Linked DNA regions of Homo sapiens: all the other regions are reported to be linked to region 3. Evidence: microRNA targets listed by miRTarBase, many of them from high-throughput screens and not tested one by one. Region 3 holds a microRNA gene; each other region holds the end of a gene's coding sequence.
Evidence for each region. Region 3 holds the annotated microRNA hsa-miR-519e-3p (AAGUGCCUCCUUUUAGAGUGUU, at 3,739-3,760, shown strand). A microRNA usually pairs through its seed, bases 2 to 8, with sites in the 3' UTR of a target mRNA and lowers its output. Matches are read on the target gene's strand: a 7mer-m8 pairs with bases 2 to 8, a 7mer-A1 pairs with bases 2 to 7 and ends in A, and an 8mer does both.

Region 1 (7,435 bases), not on the chromosome of region 3:
AGTGAGAGAAAAGATGAAGAGATTTGCATTTGGGACAGAGTCCAAGCTTACAAAAATGTAAATATGATAGAATTGGCTTGCATTAAGTTTTCAGAAAGAACTATAGCATAAAGCTGTTGTAAATCTACTTGGACTCCTCTGAACAACATTGTGAAAATTTGGTTTGTTTATATAGAAATCCCTATCCACATAGAGAAGGGAGAGTTAGTTTTCTTTATCTGCTGTCTGGTATGATAATCATTAGCCACACGTGGCTATTGAGCACTTGCAACATGTTGAAATGGTAATATTTTGGATATATTGTGTTTAAATATATTAAAATTAATTTCACTTGTTTCTTTTTACTTTTTAATATAGCTACTAGAAAATTTCTAATTAAATATCGGCTAGTGCCGATGTTGGCTAGTGCTACCCATACTCTTGCCTTATGGTAAAAAGACACACCTTTTTTTAAGAGTTTGAGCTGATTACACATTAAAGTCCTAGCCAAGAAATGAGGTTTACTGTAAAACCAACTCAAACTACTTTTGTTAATAAACAGTTTCACCATTGTGATACCATAGTTAAATGTTAATTCTGAGTTACACTAATGAAATGTTTGCACTGTGTCTGCTTCTGAGCTTAGAGAGCTTCTTAGCTAACTACAAGCCTAGAGAACTTTTCCTTGCTATATTCTATTATACTGCTTATAATTTTAATCTGATTTTAAGGAACCATGTAGTTATCTTTTCTTATGTTCTTTGTCTTCAGATTCCTTGGAATTTTGATTTTTCTTTCTGTACCTCCATAGACTGTGACCCATAAGTTAAAAGACAGTAGGGAAGTAGACATTTTTCCCCCTTCCTTTGCAGCTGCATTCAAATATACCAGGGCTAATAACAGGACTGAAAGGGACCGGATAGAACTTCTCCAAGATGCAGAACCTTTGGATTTTAATGCAGAAACATTCACTGATGATCCTCTTGAATCTGAATCAGGAAGGTAAGTTCTGGCTGTGACATTTTAGCTCTAGCATTCCTCTACACTTTTAATAACACATTGACTTGACAAGATTGAAAATAAGTAAGTAAAGGTGAAAGTAAACAAGTGATAAGTAAAGGAAAATGTTCATTTTCACTAACAATAAAAAATATATTAAGTAACTTTTGATACCTTTTTAGACTTTCTAATGCTTTTATATCATCCAGTAATGGTAACTAAAATTGTTATCTTCATACAATACTAGTGGTATTATAAATAAGAAAGAATAATTGAAATATATAGCAAAGGATCACAACAATATTTATATGCCTATTTCTGATTGTCCCATTTGTGAAATTTATTATATTTAGTAACTGCTGCATAGCAGTGTCTAGATGCCAGACACTATTCTAAGTCCTTTAGCAAAAATATTGTAATTGTATGGTTGCAAATTCAGCTGGATTTAAATCCAGAGAGGCTCAGTAAAGTGCCCAGAGTCACACAACTTGTAAATGGCAAGTCAGGCATTCAAAGTCCAGTATTCTGGCTACAGAGTCTGTACTTTTAGCCATTATGCTATAAGCACATAATTAAATAAAAGCAAAATATCATGTGCACGAAAATGTTTACTATAGTATTGCCTATATGCAGTAAAAACCTAGGTTATATTTATTTGCAACAATTGAGAGTGGTTATTGAATTGATTAATCTCCCAGATGTGTCTTACATCCCCTGCCCCCTTCTTTTTACATCTCTCACTCTGTCATGCATATATTCTAGGGTCTAAAACCGTTGCTGGTTGATTTATAATTAAGTCCTTTTGGATAATATACTTGGAGGGTAAGTTTCTGCTTTCAGCTACTGACTAGATTTTACAGTACTTACAAATTATATGGCCACTCCCTTTTAATGTATTCTTGTTTTCCTCTCTTCCTTTATTATTTTTGATGCCTCAGATCATTTCTTTATGTTCCCTTTTTAGGTATCAGCCTGGTGGACGATATCTCTCGATGTCTCGCAGTGACATATTTAATGATGTTTAAAGTCTGAAAAAGTTTGTGGGACCACTAACCAAGGTCAACACATCAGTTCAGTCTTGATGAACATCTGTGTACCCTAGAATTTCCTCTATACACAGTGAAAAGTGTCAAGATAACAAAAAAGGCACTGAGAATTAATTATATCTTAGGAATAATAGTTTAATGTGCATTGAATAGAGTATCACCTTTTTCAACAAGATTTATTACATATCATTTCCTAAGCATCTGCCTTAGAAATACAGTTACAGTGGAAGGACTTTAAGAAAGATCAACATATGTTAAGAACATGCAGTTCAGTTTGTTTCAGATTAATTTTTTTTCAAGAGAGTTATTTTAAAGATTCAAGGAAGCCATAAGTCATACTAAATAATATTATATACAGTTTTGTTATTGTGACTTACATTTTTGTTACTTCTAAAAAGTATATTCAACCTGTATTTCCCAAAGAAATGTAAGTGAATGGAGACCTCAAATAATAACTGTATTCATAAAACTCGTGTCTTAAAACAAGGCTTACTTACTAGACATAACTGAATGTAAAAAGTGCTTTTTCAAATCTGTTTGCAAACTCGTGGGGGATTTTTGCATGTATAAGATTAAGATTATACTTCAAGTGATGCGTGTCTGTGTATTTAGCATGTGTACTATAATCAGGTGATATAGTATTCCTTCAGTCTTTGTAGTAACTGGATTTTTTTATGCTTCTGGTATTGCTTTATAAAAGATTTTCATTTCAGAAAGCTATGTTCACATTTATCATTTAACATATTGATTTAAATGTTGATTATGATATTCAAGGATAAATCCTAGGCATTAATGAAAAATAGTTTTTTTTTAAGTAGTCAAAGAGTCCAACAAAATCCTTCAGTATTTAAAGGTACCTGCTTATACTTTTTGAGAAAAAAACTGGTTATTCAAAGGTAAAAAGTGAATCCATTTACTGTTATTACTGATACTTAAATCGTGGTTTATAGAAAACAAAACTATATTAGAATGGAAATGTGTAATAACTTGTTGGTTAAACATTCTTACTAAATAGACTGTTTTTAACCTTTGTGTTTAAGATAAATTTATGTATTATATTTTAAAGCACTAGTGTTTTATTGAAAAGTGAACATGTTTGATTGCAGCATGCTTGCAGAGAGTTTTCTTATGTCCCTAGAATATTTGCAACTCTTACTGAATCCATGCTACATTTGGTGACCATACTTCAGCTTGCCTAATACAGTCTCAGTGTAACACCTAGTATCCTGTTTATTACTAGTGATTACTTTCACCCTCAAGTATCCCACCCAGTTTGAAGATGAATTATATGGTTCCCCTAACTTGAAGTTAATCTTTCCCCAAGACATAAATTTAAAATTTTTATTTTTATTTTTAATAAATATTATCATGTAAGTTTTTTTTTAAAACACAGCTCTATGCAGATATTGAAAGGAATAGAGCATCATCCTCATTATCTGAAAATTTTGATCTTTGAGTTTTTATGATCTTTGCAATTAGATCCCTTTTAAAATAATTATCAGTGGATAGACTTACTCTGAATTGAAGGTCATATAGACTACACTTAAGAACACACACATACAGTCTTTTCATGTGAAGTGTGGCCAGAAAGCAATAAGCCAGGAGCAGAGATAATTTGATCCTCTTTGTAATTTAATGATTGACTAATTGAATACCTTTGGCAAATCATGTAGCTCTTCAGTGCCTCAAGTGCTTCATTCTGCACTTTCATTTGCAGAATGAAGATGATACTTGCTATTTACCTGCTGATCTACCTTACAAAGCCATTGTGAGGAAGTTGAATTGGTGTTTATGTACTGGAGTTTATAACTGTGCTATTTTTCCTAGTGATACTTGAAGGTATTGGATGGGGAAATGATCATCCCAGAAATGGGTCCAGTTTCTTATTATTACAGAAAAGTTTACAAGTACTTAAAGCAAAAACGCTTTTGGACTAATTCATCAAAAGTCCTGTGAAAGTAGTGTTGTTTTATTTAGTCTTTGGGTTTACTTTGGAATAATTTCTTAAGTATAATGTTTCTCATCAGGTTTTGTCATGAAATTAAGATGCTGTTGTTGAAACAGAAGCAGAAAAGGAAAAGAAATTAGCCAATTACTTTTATAACTAACTTTTATAATGCCCTAAGATAAATTGGTAGGAACGTGTAAGGTAATGTTACCACTTTCCTTTAGTATTAAATTTTTTATGGTTATAATAATTGAAGTGTATACGTGCATACACTTCACAACCGGTATAGATTCCTTTATGACTTTCAAGTTATATTTAAAATATTTGGTTGTTTCAGTGATTCAGAATATTCAACTTTAAGCAGAATTTGTCTTACAGAATGTTATATACAATCATATAAAAATGTTATTTTGTTGGATAAATTTGAGTTCAGAAGGCAATGACTTGACCCTGGAAGACTCAGTTTATTGCTGGGGAACCAAGTTAATATTTGTCAAGCCACCCTGTGTAAAAAACTGTAATGGGTAGAAGTTTTCTCTTTTGAGAAGCTTATTGAAATATAATGACATCTACTGCAAAATAGGACTACTAAATACATATACTTTACATGCAAAGTACATTTCTTAAAGAATTATTTCTGGTAATTTTTGATGACTTTATTACTTGATAATAAGTATTAGTTTAAAATTTTCCAAATTATTCTTTAAATAGTTGTTAGGTAAGAATATTCAGTAAGCCAGTAATTCAGAATAACTATTGTAGAAAATAATAATAATCTATTAATTTAATGAATCACCTCTAAATTACTAATTAACTTCTTTTACAACATAAATAACTTGTTATCAATAGAGCATTTTTGTAAAAAACAAAAGAAAGAATAAGTTTAATTATTAAAATTTGCTCTCTTACCAAATGAATACAAGGGCTTTTGAATAATCTCATTGCATAAGAGGCCCTCATTTCACAGAAATGGTAAGAACTAAATCAAAAGATTCAAGGGTTTTCCCTTTATAAAGAATAGATCAGAAAATTTGACAATCCAGACATTCAAAAAAACATTCTGCCAGTTGATTTTTTTGGACTACTATTTGATTAGATGATCAGTTCTGAAATTTAAGCTGCATGTATGCCCAAATTAAATTAGCATAGGAAAGTCAATGTGTGTGGTTTTTTAAAAGTATATTTTAGCATATTAATGGAGCAATTTAATTTACATTCAGTTACAAACCTCATTCTTATTAATAGGTTTAGGGAATGTTCTTGCTGGTGTGCTGATTACCATATTAGAGAAAAAATAAACTCTCCATATTATAATTCACCTGTTTAGTAAGGTGAGTTTCTTACTTGTGATTTGAGTGGATTATGCCTAAAAATTACAAGTATATTTGCACTAAGCGACAAAATATGTCCCTGAAAAATCTTAGCGTACTTGAATCATCAAATGTAATGGATTGTATTGAATTCTAAATGTTAAGAAGTAAGTGGATTTAGGGTTTTGTCTTTCTTTTCTTATGTCCTCTCTCATTCCTTTATACCTTTCTTCCTTTCTGAGGCCTATGTTTATAGCATGACTTTTAATGTGCTGAAAGATTTTCCTTCTGTTTTGTGTACAGAGTTGTTTTTGATGAGTGGTACGCTCAGAAGGAACTAGTTCTGACTACAAATCCCACTACTTGAAATAGCAATATTGTACCTAAAGTAGTCAAACAGATTTTGCTAGACAACTAAGCAACATCTGAATACAAATGTAAAGTATGCTGGCTCAGTGTATCTTTTAGGTCACTAAAGAGGACACATCAGTAAATAAATTGTTTTCAGTGTAATATTTTTACATAAAAATAGATTTCCCCCCCAAAATTTAAGATTTATTTAGATTCTTGAGACATCTTTTTATGAAAAGGAATTAATAACATACATCATCAAAACTTTTCTTAGGAGCGTTGAAACAATATAAGAAGGTTACAGAAGGCCTTCTAAAATATGAATTCCCATCTGTATGAGGTACTTCTTTCCAACTCAGTGACTTTTTGCCCAGAGACTTGGAAGACTGGGCAATGTTTTCTTTCCCCTTTCCCAACTCCTGGAGACAAGGCCCTAGGAGCAATTTCCTCCAGTAGGGCAGGCCGTAGTCCTGCTCTGTCTTACTTCCCACTGCAGCAGGAACATGTCCTCGCCTCTGATTCCTTCTGTACCAAGCCATTGGTCCATTGAGGTCAATTGAGGACTCACTGTAAATTTTAAATCTGTTAATAAAGCAAGGATATTGGCATGTTCCTCTTCTCATCAATATCCTAAAAGACATTTATTTTTTACACACTCCTTGGGAAAAATTAACTTTTTTTCACTGAAAATATTTCCTTTTTTGGTTATCTTGATCTCAGATTATTTTGTGAAAGAATTTTACTGTACTTAGTTCAAAAGAGTAGAAAGAATGATTTACTATTGCAGACATATGTAGGGTAAAATCATAATTTATTTAAACTGACTGTACAACACCATTTAGAGTTGATATTGACATAAATGTTATTAGCCTACTAATTTGGAACTGCATTTCTCAACAATGCTGGCAAGCATCTTCCGTACTTAGCATACCAAGTTGTAGGGGAGAGACTGTGTATATATTTTTTAAAAGCAATCCAATGGATTTGTTTTTGTTCATATTTTGAAAACAACTCGAAGGATTTTTCTTATTTTAGAAGGTAGAAAATATGTGGACCTGTGTTTTAAATTAATATGTATTTATAAATTATAACATTGAATGATACAACAGAGCTCTAATATTGATGTTCTCACTTTCTGATATTTAATTTTTATAAATGTTTTTGTAAGTAACTAATTGTAGTATTGCTTTTAAATAGTTTTAAAATCTATCTCAAATAAGTTCTGCCCAGACCTATTTCCTTAGGACAGTATTCTAAAGTTCAGTAGTCCAGTGTGAGCTTGAAATACTCCTAGATCCCGTCAGTGATTTTTATATATACCAATACACAAGCAAATTATTAATATACCAAAAACCTAATTTCTGCATTGCATTAATAAAATACTTGTTATTTTGCCTTTATCCAATTCAGTTGATTAGGTGAAATAGAAAATTAATCTTTTCAAATGTGCATATGATCATAATTTTTCAAAATGTTACTGTGGTCATTTTTGGTGCATGATGCCAAGTTTATCTTTAGTTAGCCATTGCCACCTGATATGTAATGACAAATGTTTTACTATCTGATCATTGGGTTGTAGATTAAACTATTTTTTTTCTCTGTAGATTCTCACTACATTTTCAAATATGTACTTGGAAAAAGCTGCAAAGTGCTACCTATAAGCAAATTAGTAACTTTGGCCTTATCTATGCATAGTGTTCGCTCAGTTTGGTTTTGATAAATTGATTGACTTGCAGTTCCTTTGTAGTATTTTAACTTATTGTGATGTAATGAATTTTTTGAAATGTTTATTTGATTAGCTG
Region 2 (7,435 bases), not on the chromosome of region 3:
GTGTGCAGGGGGAGAGAGACTGTTATTCATTATCTCTGGCCTCAGATGCTGTATCTGCACAGGCCTGTACTGGACATTGCACAAGTACCCTGCCTGGCTGCCTCTTCCCCAGCACCATCTCATCTCCACACACTGCCTGCCACCACCAGCCAGGCTTGTCTTGGGGGTGGCAGCTCAGCTTCCCTGCATGGACTGCAGGCTTCACGAGAGTCGGCCTGCATGCCTTTTCCCTCACTGCACCCAAGGATACCCTGCACCACTTGGATTCCATTGTCAGGGCTCAGTCTGGTGTCAGGAGGCCTCTACTCTAAGCCTCCTGACAGATGTGGACAGATGTAAAGAGGAGCCCCAGAGTGCAGAATAGAAGCCAGCTGGGATTGAAATGGAAGGAATTTACATGAGACACAGGATGCAGGGTGTGATCTGGGAATTTCAGGAGGTAGGGCATTGGTGGGGAGGTACCAACTGCAACAGCCCACCCCCCTCCTGGTGCACAGACATGCTGCTGAAGGTGACCATTGTTTCATTTATTCATTCTCAAATATTCATGCAATATTTATTGGTCTCTAAATCTGGTCTCAGGTCTCTAAATCTGGTCACAGCATGAGGCAGGCTGAGTCAGAGACCTCTCCCCCTTAACCCGCCTGGCCCAGCCCCATCCACTGGGAGGACTTGGCGCCCTAGAGATGCCTAACCACCGATGAGACACCCAGGGGCGAGATATGAGCTCCCTAGTACTCACAAGTGGGTCATCCTGCATATCAAAGGATGTAGGAGTACAATGACGTGATGTTCGGGATTTGCTTTAAAATACTGCAGTCAAGGAAAATAGAAAAGGGATAACTAAAGCATATGTGACTCCATCTGGATAACTGTTGAATCTGGGTGATGGGTCCATGGCGGTGGGAGGGTCATTGTAATGTCATATGTCTGAAATGTTTGAAGTGTACCAGTTGCAGGGGTGCCGTGGTGATTACTGCCTCCTGCCCCCCAGCCAAGTACAGGCGTGACAACCCAAAGTGCACACCCCCCAATGACGTTCCAAAGAAAGAACCCACTTGTGCCTGTCAGAAACATGATATAACTGTCAAAAGGACAGAAAGTCAGCTACATCAATGGCAAGATGTGAGTAGTAGGTTCCGTTTGTCCCAGGACAGTGCAGAAATGGCAAATTTTCCCTCAATATGAAAAAAAGAAACAAAGAAAATCTATGAGAAGTGCCACCACATGGACAGACCACCCCTCCCGCGGGCCTGTGGTCTGCAGCCCCTGCCCGTTTCCAACAACCTTCCTCACTAACAGGCTTTCTCCTTCCTGCAGGGTCCCTGATGCCGCTTCCCGATGGGAATGGGCTGGAAGACGGCAATGTCCGCCACCTGGTGCAGCCCAGAGGGTCAAGGAATGGGCCAGGGCCCTGGCAGGGAGGTCGGAGGAAATTCCGCCGCCAGCGGCCCCGCCTCTCCCATAAGGGACCCATGCCTTTCTGAAGCAGGTACTTGAGCCTCTGTTCAGTGGACAGTGCTAAAGCGGAGGGAGAAGGACAGCCTAGAAGCCGGGTGATCCTGCCGCTCATCACTGGCCAGACACATCCATCAAACAGTCCTGGCGCCACACTCACAGAGGCTTAGAGCTGGCAAGAGAGCTTATGGGGCAGCTGTCTAGCCCCTTTATTTTACAGACGATCTCCTCGTCTGAGGCCTAGAGAGGGGCTTGATACTTGGGGCCAGTCTCCCTTCCACCCTGCTGCCTGGGGTTGGGGAGGCTGGCCTGCTTAGAGATTTCTAGACATCCTGGTGGACCTTAATGGCTGGGGAGGGGTGCCCAGGGCAAACCTACAGATGTCCAGTGTAGATTGTCGCCAGAGTTGGGGAAGGAGGCAGAGAGCTCTAGGGGCTCTCAGGCAGAGAACAAGAGGACAGTTGTGGCTGTGGTTGCCCGGAGCTGTGAGAAGGAGGGAAGAACCAAGGTGGCAGCAGAGAGAGGAGAGCTGAAGCCTGCCCCTTCCCTGGTCTGCTGGCTGTCCCACTGCAGTGGGGACAGGCAGGCACCAACTCAGGGGCCTTGGGATTGAGGTTTGGGCTGAGTGGAGTTTGGGGGAAAGAGAAGGCGGTCTCCTCTCTCCTCTCCTTTCCTGGGGAGTTCCTTTGGCCTAGGATATGTCCATGACTTCTCTCTTGTCATTTTTGTCTCCTTAGGACTGAAGGGGCCCCCAAGTGCCCACCCCCGGCGGTTATGTCTCCTCCATAGATTGGTCTGCTTCTCTGGAGGCCTCACGTCCATTCAGCTCTCACCTCGCACCTGCTGTAGCCACCAGTGGGCCCAGCTCTTCTCACCTGCCTGCTTCCCCCAGTGGCGTGCTCCTGGCTGTAGTTTGGATGATTCCCGTTCTCTCACAAGAATCCGTCCAGTCCATCTTCCTGGCCCCTCCCTGGACTGACTTTGGAGACCTAGCCCCAGAAAGCCTCCCTTCTTCTCCAGGTCCCCTCCGCCCTAGTCCCTGCCTGTCTCATCTAACGCCCCAAACCTTCATTTGGGCCTTCCTTCCTCATGTCTGCCCTGAGCGCGGGGTGGAAGTGCTCCCTTCTGTGGGCTCCAGCAGATCCCTTGTTTTCCTGTCAGTTGGACCCCTCACCTGGCCTCCAGGGAAGAATGCAGAGAAAAGCAAGGAGAGACTCTAGTTAAGAGGTGCTGGCTGCGGGGATCCAGACAGGGCACATTGGGGGCATGGAAGTGCCAGGGTGGTTTTCAGGAGCTCTGGTGAAGTGGGTGGAGCATCAGCGTTTGCTCAGTTAAGGGAGAGGTAGAGAGGGGCCCGTGAAGTCCTTTGTCACTTCTCTTGCCTTAGTGTGCCTCCCAATACTCCCTTCTTCCTGCCCCCACACCCCATCCCCAGCTAGCCCAAGCTCCAGGTCAGGAGGGGAGGGTGCTGGGCCTGACATGGCTATATACCCTCCCAGGAGTAAAAGCCAAGCAAGAGGTTGTTTTTGCCAAGAATCACAGAATGTTAGAGCTGACAGGACCCTTGAAGGTCACTTAGCCTTCTTAGGCAAACGCCTGCAAAACAGAAGCCTGGAGAGGGGAGTGACCTGCTCAGAGTCATTGCAGAGCCGGGATGGGGACCAGGTCTCCCATCTCCTACTTTATGACGCCCTCTTCCCTCTTGATGATGTCTTTTCAAAGCAAATGAAGTGCCTTTTCCCGAGGCTGGGGCTGGGGGTGGCTGGGAGGGGAAGGGAAGGGAGAGGCAAGCTGGCTGTGAACTGTCCTGTTGTGGGGCTGGAGCTGCTCCCACCTCCCTGACCTACCCCTGCTGCACCATTCCCCCAGCTGGGCTGGAAGGTTCCATAACTGGCCAGCTGCCCCCATAACTGGCAGCATTCCCAGACCCAGGGTACTCTAATAGGGGCGGCTCAGGCACTGAGACTACCGCTCAACCCCAGGGTGGTTTTCAGGAGTCCGAGGTAGCCTTCAATCACTGGACTCCATGGCCTTCCCTTCGTGTTGACCGGACCTTCCTTCCAGGGCTTTTCCTTTGGGGGAGGCGGAGAGGGGAGAAGAAGGAAGGGAAGGGCAGAAGGAAGGAGGGAAGAAAAGAAAGCAAAGGAACAGAAGGAAGGAAAGAAAGATGGGAGGAAGTGCAGCAGGAATAGCACCCTCTCCCCGGGAGGCCCTAGCTTCCGTGAGGGGCCATCACCAGCCATTCCTTGGAGGGGGCTTTCTCCCCTTTTGCTTGAGCAGGGTTCCCAGGAGGGAGAAAGAGAAGACAAGAGCCTGATGCCCAACTTTGTGTGTGTGGGGACGGGGGAGTCAGGGCCCCCCAAGTCCCACAATAGCCCCAATGTTTGCCTATCCACCTCCCCCAAGCCCCTTTACCTATGCTGCTGCTAACGCTGCTGCTGCTGCTGCTGCTGCTTAAAGGCTCATGCTTGGAGTGGGGACTGGTCGGTGCCCAGAAAGTCTCTTCTGCCACTGACGCCCCCATCAGGGATTGGGCCTTCTTTCCCCCTTCCTTTCTGTGTCTCCTGCCTCATCGGCCTGCCATGACCTGCAGCCAAGCCCAGCCCCGTGGGGAAGGGGAGAAAGTGGGGGATGGCTAAGAAAGCTGGGAGATAGGGAACAGAAGAGGGTAGTGGGTGGGCTAGGGGGGCTGCCTTATTTAAAGTGGTTGTTTATGATTCTTATACTAATTTATACAAAGATATTAAGGCCCTGTTCATTAAGAAATTGTTCCCTTCCCCTGTGTTCAATGTTTGTAAAGATTGTTCTGTGTAAATATGTCTTTATAATAAACAGTTAAAAGCTGACAGTTCGCCCTTACTCTTGGAGGTCATGTTCAGGAGGGGCATTCCTTTCCCCTGGGGGTCATGGGTGTCCCCATGCCCACATATTGCACGTGCAGGGAGGTAAGTGCCTGCATCCCAAATCGGTTCTAGGTCAACTGGCCTCAAACTGATTTGCCATGAGCTCACAAAATGAATCCCTATGCTTAATGACCAGGTCACATAAAATCCAGCCCACTTACAGGTTTTCTGGCATCTGTTTGGGTGTCCTAATTTTTTTGGCAGTGTCATTTGAAGAATTTTTTTAAAGCAGTTTATTTAAGAACATACTGATTAAATGCAGGATCGCTACTAAAAATTGTTTTGTATCCTTGGTGGGTGTCTTCTGCTATTTTATCTACTTTTGAACACTTTCAGGACTTTTTAGCCAGTTTGCCTTTCTTGAAAAATGTTATGTTTTCAGCAATAAATACATTTGATAATGACTTTGTTTGTATCATTTTATGTTTCACAAAGTAGAGTTGCTTGATGAATGAGATAGCCTGAAAAATAAAATGCAAAGAGTTCAATATAATTCTGCCCCATCTGTCTCATCACTTCACGTTTGTTGTCAAAATGCCAATATCTTGCAGAACAGAAGGGAACATTGGGTACATGCTAATTTGGTTAATAAACCCATTAGGTGCACACAGGAATACACAGTACAGAGCAAAACTCAGTGAGAAGCAGAGAGGAGGGATCAAAATGGGTTCATTTGATAAATCTCGTGGGAAATCCTATAGATTTGACAAGTATTTAGTGCTAGAAATATACAATTTTAAAGAAAGGGTCTTCAAACAAACTCCCTAAAAAGTCATAAAAATGATCAATAGGAGAGAAAAATAGAAAAAGTCACCCACAAGCATACAAAACAATCTCATTATTGACAAAATGCTGCAAGTTGTGATAGTGATTTAAAAATGCAATGTTACGGCTGGGAGCGGTGGCTCACACCTGTAATCCCAGCACTTTGGGAGGCCGAGGCAGGCAGATCACTTGAGGTCAGGAGTTTGAGACCAGCATGGCCAACATGGTGAAACTCCGTCTCTACTGAAAATACAAAAATTAGCTGGGTATGGTGGCAGGTGCCTGTAATCCCAGCTACTCGGGAGGTTGAGGCAGGAGAATTGCTTGAACACAGGATGTGAAGGTTGCAGTGAGCCGAGATCACACCACTGTACTCCAGCCTGGGTGACAGAGCCAGACTCCATCTCAAAAAAAAAAAAAAAAAAAGTGATGTTACATTGGAAGTGCCTCTTAGGAAAACTGGTGCAAAATGCCTTATTTTAAAATTACTAGTTTGACTTTTAGGCAAACAGGTGGAACTGGTTTTAAGCAGAGGTTTCAGGTGGACTGGCTTTATGCTGATTAGTCTGTTACCTGCCTAATCATCCCCAAAGTTCTAAATTCACGTGAAAGCAAGGAGAAGGGAGTGGGGCATGGGGCAGGACAACTTAATACTGACCCATAAGGGTACAGTGAATTAGATAAGTGAATCTAGAATCTGGTCTTCAAATTCCAGAATGCAAACTCTTTCTACAGTACTACAGAAGGTCCCCTAACTAGAAAGAAGAATTAGGTACAATTTGATATTCTTTTTTTTTTTTTTTTTCCGAGACACAGTCTTGCTCTGTCTCCCAGGCTGGAGGGAAGGTAGTGGCGCAATCTCGGCTCACTGCAACCTCCACCTCCTGGGTTCAAATGTTTCTCCTGCCTCACCCTCCCAAGAAGCTGGGATTACATGCACCCATCACCATGCCTGGGTAATTTTTTGTATTTTTATTTATTTATTTATTTTTATTATTATTATTATTTTTAGTAGAGACAGGGTTTCACCAGGTTAGCCAGGCTAGTCTTGAGCTCCTGACCCGAAGTAATCCGCCTGCCTTGGCTTCCCAAAGTGCTGGGATTACAAGCATGAGCCACCATGCCCAGCTATGTTTGTTATTCTTAGTAAGTACAATACAAACTCATAGTACAAGAGGGCACAGTGTGGACTGGTGGGATCAGGGAAAGCTAATAGAGGCTGAGTGATAAAAACAGGCCCTAGAAGGCACAATAGCATTTGGTTAAGTTGGTGAAAGGATGATGGGCAGAGACGGCGGGGACAAGGAAGGGGGAGCAGCCACCAGGGTCTATGGAACCTACGTAGTCAACTGGATACTATTGGGTGGATCCAAGTGTGACCTCCTTGGGGCAGGGGATAAGGAAAAGAAAGTTGGTGGCTTCTGTAAAGATAATTAGACCTCAAACCAAAAGAAGGCTGAACATATGATATGCGTTGCTACTACCCTTTGGAGATATCTAGACCAAATAAATACAACAGAAGCAGAGTAGGGCATTGCTTTTCAAAATGCAGAGCTTAGGAAAAGAAATAGGAGTTCACTTAACTGATTGTTTCTGGACCGGAGGTCCTGAACTGAGAGGTTGACGAGTGGGGGCAGAGAATCTGAAAACCAACACTCTTTCAAATCCATCCGGAATTAGGCAGCCTCTGAAATGACAGAGATTAGGGAGGCAAACAGACTCAGACCACACACAGCTTTTCAGGACCCCAGGTGTGGTGTAAAATGAGCCATAACTGCTTAGAAATCTAACATTTCAGACTCTTCTGTAGGCCTAGCTGGCTTGGTACCCCCTGTAGGGGCTGGGCTCCTCCGTATTGAGGGAACCATGAGGCCTGGCCTGAGCAGCCATTCTGAAGTCCTTATAGAATTCGATTCTCCAAGCCTAAAGGTTACTCAACTGAAATTTCTCAATCCAAAGTTTCTTTCTGACCAGAGTGTGCCTGTGCCAGCTAACTGCCAAAGGAGATGGCAGAGATTTACTCAGTATCTTCCTCTCCTGGCTTGAGAAGGGCCGCTGACTCAGCCAGCATTTCTTGGTAACTCTTGAAAGGAAGGCTTCTTCTCTAGGACTCCTTTGAAAATCCAGCTTTTCCTATGCAGTGGCCAGTGCTCAGAGAAGGAGCCCAGCAAGGGACTCCCCTTGCCGCTGTCTTGGACTTCAGCCAAAGGCCCAAGCCGCATCCAGGACACTTCCTTGAATGTTTCAAATCAGCCGCCAACAGACTTTTTCTGTAAAGAGCCAGATAGTTTTCTTGACTTTTTGAGCCA
Region 3 (7,435 bases):
GCACTCCAGCCTGGGCCAACATAGCAAGATCCCATCTCTTAAAAAAAAATACATTACATGGCACCTGGTTCCAGAGACACCATTTGTGTTGGTCAAACAATGGCCTCCTATAAATTTAGTTTAATGAATCCAAACCATGTTTCCTTCATTAAGAGAGTAAATAAGCCTCCAAGTCTATCCAGTCTTTTTGAGACAGAGCTTGGCTCTTGTCACTCAGGCTAGAGTGCAATGGTGCAATCTCAGCTCACTGCAACCTCTGCCTCCTGAGTTCAAGGAGTTCTCTCACCTCAGCCTCCCAAGTAGCTAGAATGACAGGCGCCTGCCACCATGACCAGCTAATTTTTGTGTTTTTACTAGAGATGGGGTTTCACCATGTCGGTCAGGCTGGTCTCGAACTCCTGACCTCCGTGATCCACCCACCTCAGCCTCCCAAAGTGCCGGGATTACAGACGAGAGCCACCACGCCCGGCCTGTCCAGTCTTGTTCTGCAGTCCCCAATGGGGATTTTTTTTTTCCTGTTCATTTGTCTTTTTATTTTAATCTACTTGTCCCTGACACTGAAAATTTTTCCTTCCTAACAGCTTACCATCATTTCTCAGAATAGACCTGCTTCCTCTGTGAGAAGCTTATAGTTGATTCAACCCTCAACCACTAATGCCAACAACCCTAGTGAGTTCTTTTGACTACAGCTGGACCATTTATCCTGTTTCCTGTGGGTAGCGGTTCCAATGTACCATTCCAACAGGCAAAACCTCGCCTCTGAATACAGGTTGCTTGGCAAGATCTAAAATGTTTGCTGTGCCTAATATAAACTATTGTAAAGAAAATCCATCTCAATCACAGTGACAAATGTCACATGAGACAAAACCACAGATATTTTCGCAAAAATAGGGTCCTTTAGAACCCTAGAAGGGTCTCTCTAGTAACAGGTGGGATGTTCAGCAGCTCTTGTTGTTGCCACAGTGAGCGATGCCTGTTCGTCCAGCCCTTAACACCTCTTACTCCATGGAAGTTCTGCCTGCACTGCTTTATAGAACACCTCTTGGGTTGAGGTAGAGTTGGAGGGGACCTCAGTGTCCCTTGCTGATGGGATGTGCACTGCTTAGCAAGCGCACGGAGGTGGAGTGCATGGGCTCTGAGTTTTTATTGGGTAAATGCAGCCGAAATGTAGTGTGCATGAACAGGTCAAAAAATTGCACATTTGATTTAATTTTTAAATTTTAGAGATGGGGGTCTCACTGTGTCACCCAGACTAAACTGGGCTGTGCTCCTATGCGTACCCTAGTAGCTGGGACTTCAGGTGAATATTAACCCATGCATAGGCAAGGAGAGAGGAAGGCTCTGACAGTCTGTGATCTCCCCTCACTGCAACCTCCACCCTCTGGACTGGGAACGTCAGGGCACTGCACCGATGCAGGCAGGATGAGCCGAGGGGAAAGGAGAGCCAGGCATCACTGGCTGGGGACATTTTGGGTTTGATCTGGATGGAGCAGGTGTCTCCTGGAGAGAGAGCCCCTGGGATTTTCACTCTGCTCCCTGGCTGTCTTAGTCATGGAATCTGACAACAGAGACTCCTGCCCAGGGCCACTTCATTTGGTTTCTGGACCCCAGTGGTCCTTCCTGCCTGGACTTAGGATCTTTTGGGGAAGTTTGGGATCTGGCAGGGCATCTGCATAATCCATAGAAATCCCTGAGAGTCACTTCCCTTGGCTGACATCTCCATGTTCCTACCCATTACCTTCCAAAGGAGACCCTTAACTGAATTACCAAAGGGGGCTTCCCAGAGCAGGGAAACCCGGTTAACTTTCTATTTCAGGTCAACAGTATACTTGAGATGTACTTGAACTAGAAATGATTGGTTGTTTAGGTGTGGGCATTTGTTTTTCCTAACTTAGTCTCCAAGAAAAAAAATTATTGAGGTTTTACAGCCTAGCCTGTGGTCTATCCTGAAGAATGTTCGTGTGTGTGACAATGTACATTCTTTTTTTCCCCCCAGCTCTGTCAAATCTTACTGAGGAGCTTTTACGGCCTAGCCTGTGGTCTGTCCTGGAGGGTATTTGTGTGTACAACAATGTATATTCTTAAACATTATCTTAGATTCCATTTTGGATGTTCCCATCAGGACTGTGTGTTTCTGTGCTGGAACTCAAGTGAACACTGGCTCAACATCCTTAGAAATCCAGCCCAATTCTCTTGGTTAAAGATAAGGTATGTGTGGTAGGCATTGCTTTTTCTCTTTGGGGACAAAACTCAGGAGGATTGCCCCTTGATGAACAAGGCTAACCTGCTAAGCCTTTGAAGCAAGGAACTGGAGATGGTCCTTTCAGGGGTTTATGTTCTGGATTCCATAAAACATGCAAACAGGGGCAATGAATGCACCTTTTTTATTTTTATTTTTATTTTTTTTTGAGATGGAGTCTTACTCTTGCCAGTCTGGAGTGCAGTGGCACGATCTCGGCTCACTGCAACTTCTGCCTCCTGGTTCAAGTAATTCCCCTGCCTCAGCCTCCCGAGTAGCTGGGACTACAGGTACATGCCACCACAGGCGGCAAATGGTTGTATTTTTAGTAGAGACGGAGTTTCACCATGTTGGCCAGGATGGTCGTGGTCTCTTGACCAGCCTCCCAAAGTGTTGGGATTCCAGGCGTGAGCCACCGCGCCTGGCCAATGAATGCATCTTTATTTTTGTGTTCATTTTAATCTGGTAAGGTAAATTCCAACAAAAAACCCAGAGTTTTGGAGTGAGAAGATCTCATGCAGTCATTCTCCAAAAGAAAGCACTTTCTGTTGTCTGAAAGCAGAGTGCCTTCTTTTGGAGCGTTACTGTTTGAGAAAAACCACGTTGAAGTTGATGCTGATCTTGGTAACACATTTGCAGAGCGTGCTTATCATCAGACTTGCATGATGTTGGGGTTCTGTTTTTGTTTAGTTTTTTTGCAACACAGGGTCTCTTGCCCAGGCTGGAGTGCGGTGACACTTCCAACCTAGACCTCTTGGGCTCAGTTGGTCCCTGCCCCCACCCCCTCCCCCTTTTTTTTCTCTTGAGACAGTCTCTCTCTGTGGCCCAGGCTGGAGTGCAGTGGTATGTTCTCTGCTCACTGCAACCTCTGCCTCCCGAGTAGCTGGTATTACAGGCACATGCCACCACGCCTGGCTAATTTTTGTATTTTTAGCAGAGACGGAGTTTCATCATGATGGCCAGATTAGTCTTGAACTCCTGACCTTAGGTGATCCACCTGCCTCGGCCTCGCAAAGTGCTGGGATTACAGGCATGAGCCACTGTGCCTGGCCCACAACGTATATTCTTAAATATCATCTTAGATTCCATTTTGGTTGCTCCCATCGGGACTGTGTGTCCCTGTGCTGGAACTCAAGTGAACACATGGCTCAAAATCCATTGCTGTTCTCTAGAAATCCAGCCCAATTCTCTTGGTTAAATATAAGGTATGTGTGGTAGGCTTTGCTTTTTCTCTTTGGAGACAATACTCAGGAGGGTTGCCCCTTCGTGAACAAGGCTAACCTGCTGAGCCTTTGAAGCAAGGAACTGGAGATGGTCCTTTTAGGGGTTTATGTTCTGGATTCCAGAAAACATGCAAACAGGGACAATGAATGCATCTTTATTTTTGTGTCCATTTTAACCTGGTAAGGAAAATTCCAACAAAAACCCAGAGTTTTGGAGCGAGAAGATCTCATGCAGTCATTCTCCAAAAGGGAGCACTTTCTGTTTGAAAGAAAACAAAGTGCCTCCTTTTAGAGTGTTACTGTTTGAGAAAAACCACGTTGAAGTTGATGCTGATCTTGGTAACGCATTTGCAGAGCGTGCTTATCATCAGACTTGCATGATGTTGGGGTTCTGTTTTTGTTTAGTTTTTTTGCAACACAGGGTTTCTGTTGCCCGGGCAGGAGTGCGGTGGCGCTTCCAACCTAGACCTCTTAGGCTAGTTGGTCCCCCCTACTTTTTTTGTTGTTTTTGTTCTTGAGACAGAGTCTCACTATGTGGGCCAGGCGGGCAGGCAGTGACACATTCTCTGCTCACTGCAACCTCGGCCTCCCAAGTAGCTGGTATTATAGGCACGTGCCACCACGCCTGGCTAATTTTTGTATTTTTAGCAGAGATGGAGTTTCACCACATTGGCCAGGTTAGTCTTGAACTCCTGACCTCAGGTGATCTGCCCGCCTCTGCTTTCCAAAGTGGTGGGATTACAGGCATGAGCCACCCTGCTCGGACTGCAGGGTGTTTTTTTTTTTTTTTTTAATTATTATTTGTATTTTTTTGTGCTGCCAAAGCAAGCACTTGTGTGTAGGAATTTTGTTTGTTTGTTTGTTTGTTTGTTTGAGATGGAGTCTCATTCTTGTCGCCCAGGCTGGAGTGCAGTGGCATGATCTCGGCTCACTGCAACCTACGCCTTCCGGGTTCAAGCGATTCTCCTGCCTCAGCCTCCTGAGTAGCTGGGATTTCAGGTGCATGCCGCCACCCCGGCTAATTTTTGTCCTTTTGGTAGAATCGGGGTTTTGCCATGTTGGTCCGGCTGGTCTCAAACTCCTGACCTCAACTAATCCACCTGCCTCGGCCTCCCAAACTGCTGGGATTACAGGCATGAGCCACCGCACCCGGTGAGGAGTTATTTTTAATGTGAGCAAACAGTATATTCTTTTTTTTTTTTTTCATAGACAGGGTCTCAACAATATATGATGTATATTTAATCATATAGTCTTATCATGTATATAATGTAGTCATATGTACACCAAACCCTGTTCTACACACGGAGAATACTCTTGTATCACTTTGGGTATTTATTTACTTGTTTCTTTCTGTGTTTTTCTTGTTTGTTTGTTTGTTTTGTTTTGAGACAAGGTCTAGCTTTATCACCCAGGCTGGAGTGCAGTGGTGCCATGTCGACTTACTGCAACCTCCACCTGCCACCTCAGCCTCCTGAGTACTTGTCTACAGGTGCGCACCACCACACCCAGCTAACTTTTCTATTTTTTGTGCATAAGGTTTCACCATATTACCCATGCTGGTTGAGCTCGAACTCCTGAGCTCAAGTGATCCTCCTGCCTTGCCCTCTTTAAGTGCTGGGTTTATTGGTGTGAGCCACCACGCCCCACCCATACTTGTGTATTTCTGTATTTATTGAGGAGCTTATACAGCATACCCTGTGGTCTATCCTGCAGGATGTTTGTGTGTGAGACAGTGTATATTCTTGAACATAGTAGATTCCATTTTGGATGCTCCCATCGGGACTGTGTGTCCCTGTGCTGGAACTCGAGTGAACACTTGGCTCAAAATCCATTGCTGTTCTCTAGAAATCCAGCTCAATTCTCATGGTTAAATATAAGGTATATGTGGTAGGCATTGCTTTTTCTCTTTGGGGACAGAACTCAGGAGGATTGCCCCTTGATGAACAAGGCTAACCTGCTGATTCTTTGAAGCAAAGGACTGGAGATGGTCCTTTTAGGGGTTTATGTTCTGGATTCCAGAAAACATGCAAACAGGGCCAATAAATGCATCTTTTTGTTTTGTTTTGTTTTGTTTTTGAGATGGAGTCTCGTTCTGTCACCCAGGCTGGAGTGCAGTGGCACAATCTTGGCTCACTGCAAGCTCAGCCTCCTGGGTTCACGCCATTCTCCTGCCTCAGCTTTCCAAGTAGCTGGGGCTACAGGTGCCCACCACCACGCTAGGCTAATTTTTTGTATTTTTAGTAGAGGCGGGGTTTCACCCTGTTAGCCAGGATGGTCTTGATCTCCTGACCTCGTGATCTGCCCGCCTCGGCCTCCCAAAGTGCTGGGATTACAGGCATGAGCCACTGCGCCCGGCCCCAATAAATGCATCTTTATTTTTGTGTCCATTTAAACCTGGTCAAGGAAGATTCCCACAAAAAATCCACGGTGCTGGAGCAAGAGGATCTCAGGCTGTGACCCTCTAAAGGGAAGCGCTTTCTGTGGTCAGAAAGAAAAGCAAGTGCTTCCTTTTAGAGGGTTACCGTTTGGGAAAAGCAATGTTGAAGTTGATGCTGATCTTGGTAAAATATTTGCAGAGCGTGCTTATCATCAGACTTGGATGATGGTGGGGTTTTGCTTTTGTTTTGTTGTATTCCAAGACAAGGTCCCTGTTGCCCAGGCTGGAGTGCGGTGACACTTCAACCTACATTTCTTGGGCTCCGGTCGTTTTTGTTTGTTTGTTTGTTTGTTTGACAGGGAGTCTCACTGTGTGTCTCAGCAATGCAGTGGCACTATCTTGGCTCACTGAAACCTCAGCCTCCTGAGTAGCTGGGATCACAGGTGCGTGCAACCACGCCCATCTAATTTTTGTATTTTTTGCATTTTCAGTAGAGACGGGGTTTCACCGTGTTAGCCAGGATGGTCTCGATCTTCTAACCTCGTGATCCGCCCGCCTCGGCCTCCCAAAGTGCTGGGATTATAGGCGTGAGCCACCGCGCCCGGCCGAGAAACTAATCTTTTGAGATGAACTCTGAGATGTGGATTTTAGCTTGTTTGCAGCCACCACCACTCTAGTTTTGGAAGATTTTCATCACCCCGAAGAGGCTTATACTCATTTGCAGTCAGTACCCACCCACCTCTTCCACCCAGACCGTGGCAACGACTCCCCATCTCTCTAGCTCTGGATCTGCCTCTTGTAGGCCGGTCACGTAGACCAATCTTGTATGGGTGTCCAGTTGAGGATAATGGGTTGGTCCTGGTTGTCTGCAATGTGAATCTTACCACTGAAGGGTGGTCCCTGGAGGGAAGCAGGAGGCTGGGAGAACTGGGCGGAACATCCTTTGGGAATGGAGTGGGGCGGGCAGACCCTGATGTCTGGGAAGCTCACAAGGGTGGAAGACCCCATCTTCCTCCCTGAGAACTGCAAGGTGACCCTCCTGGGGCACTGGAAGGAGTGAAGGCCTCTGGGCTGGGAACGTCAGGGCACTGCACCGATGCAGGCAGGATGAGCCGAGGGGAAAGGAGAAGCAGGCATCATTCTCTGGGGACATTTTGGGTTTGATCTGGATGGAGCAGGTGTCTTCTGGGAGAGAGAGCCCCTGGGATTTTCACTCTGCTCCCTGGCTGTCTTAGTCATGGAATCTGACAACAGAGACTCCTGCCCAGGGCCACTTCATTTGGTTTCTGGAGCCCAGTGGTCCTTCCTGCCTGGACTTGGGATCTTTTGGGGAAGTTTGGGATCTGGCTGGGCGTCTGCATAATCCATAGAAATCCCTGAGAGTCACTTCCCTTGGCTGACATCTCCATGTTCCTTACCCATTACCTTCCAAAGGAGACCCTTATCTGAATTACCAAAGGGGGCTTCCCAGAGCAGGGAAACCTGGTTAAATTTGTATTTCAGATTAACAGTATACTTGAGATGTACTTGAAGTAGAAATGATTGGCTGTGGGTGTCGGCATTTGTTTTTTCTAATTTTAAATATGGGACCATCAT

Region 1: the mRNA of LMBRD2 is a reported target of hsa-miR-519e-3p. Seed matches in the 3' UTR shown: 7mer-m8 at 2,123-2,129.
Region 2: miRTarBase lists APLN as a target of hsa-miR-519e-3p. Seed matches in the 3' UTR shown: 7mer-m8 at 3,413-3,419.

Annotation. Positions count from the first base shown.
Region 1 is chr5:36,098,614-36,106,048 of GRCh38, reverse strand. LMBRD2 (LMBR1 domain containing 2) reads left to right here. Exons shown (of 18, transcript NM_001007527.2): 17 at 852-981; 18 at 1,943-7,435. The coding sequence ends at 2,003. Among named protein-coding and RNA genes, the nearest start is that of UGT3A2, 35 kb to the right of the region's middle.
Region 2 is chrX:129,642,678-129,650,112 of GRCh38, reverse strand. It overlaps APLN (apelin), which reads left to right. Exons shown (of 3, transcript NM_017413.5): 2 at 1,321-1,492; 3 at 2,196-4,854. The coding sequence ends at 1,487. Among named protein-coding and RNA genes, the nearest start is that of APLN, 8.6 kb to the left of the region's middle. RefSeq lists enhancers at 1-159, 160-661.
Region 3 is chr19:53,676,253-53,683,687 of GRCh38, forward strand. MIR519E (microRNA 519e) reads left to right here and starts at 3,688; the gene lies at 3,688-3,771. MIR515-1 (microRNA 515-1) reads left to right here and starts at 2,751; the gene lies at 2,751-2,833. MIR520F (microRNA 520f) reads left to right here and starts at 5,907; the gene lies at 5,907-5,993. The region is part of intron 2 of LOC107985342 (a long non-coding RNA gene); the gene reads left to right. RefSeq lists an enhancer at 1,443-1,943.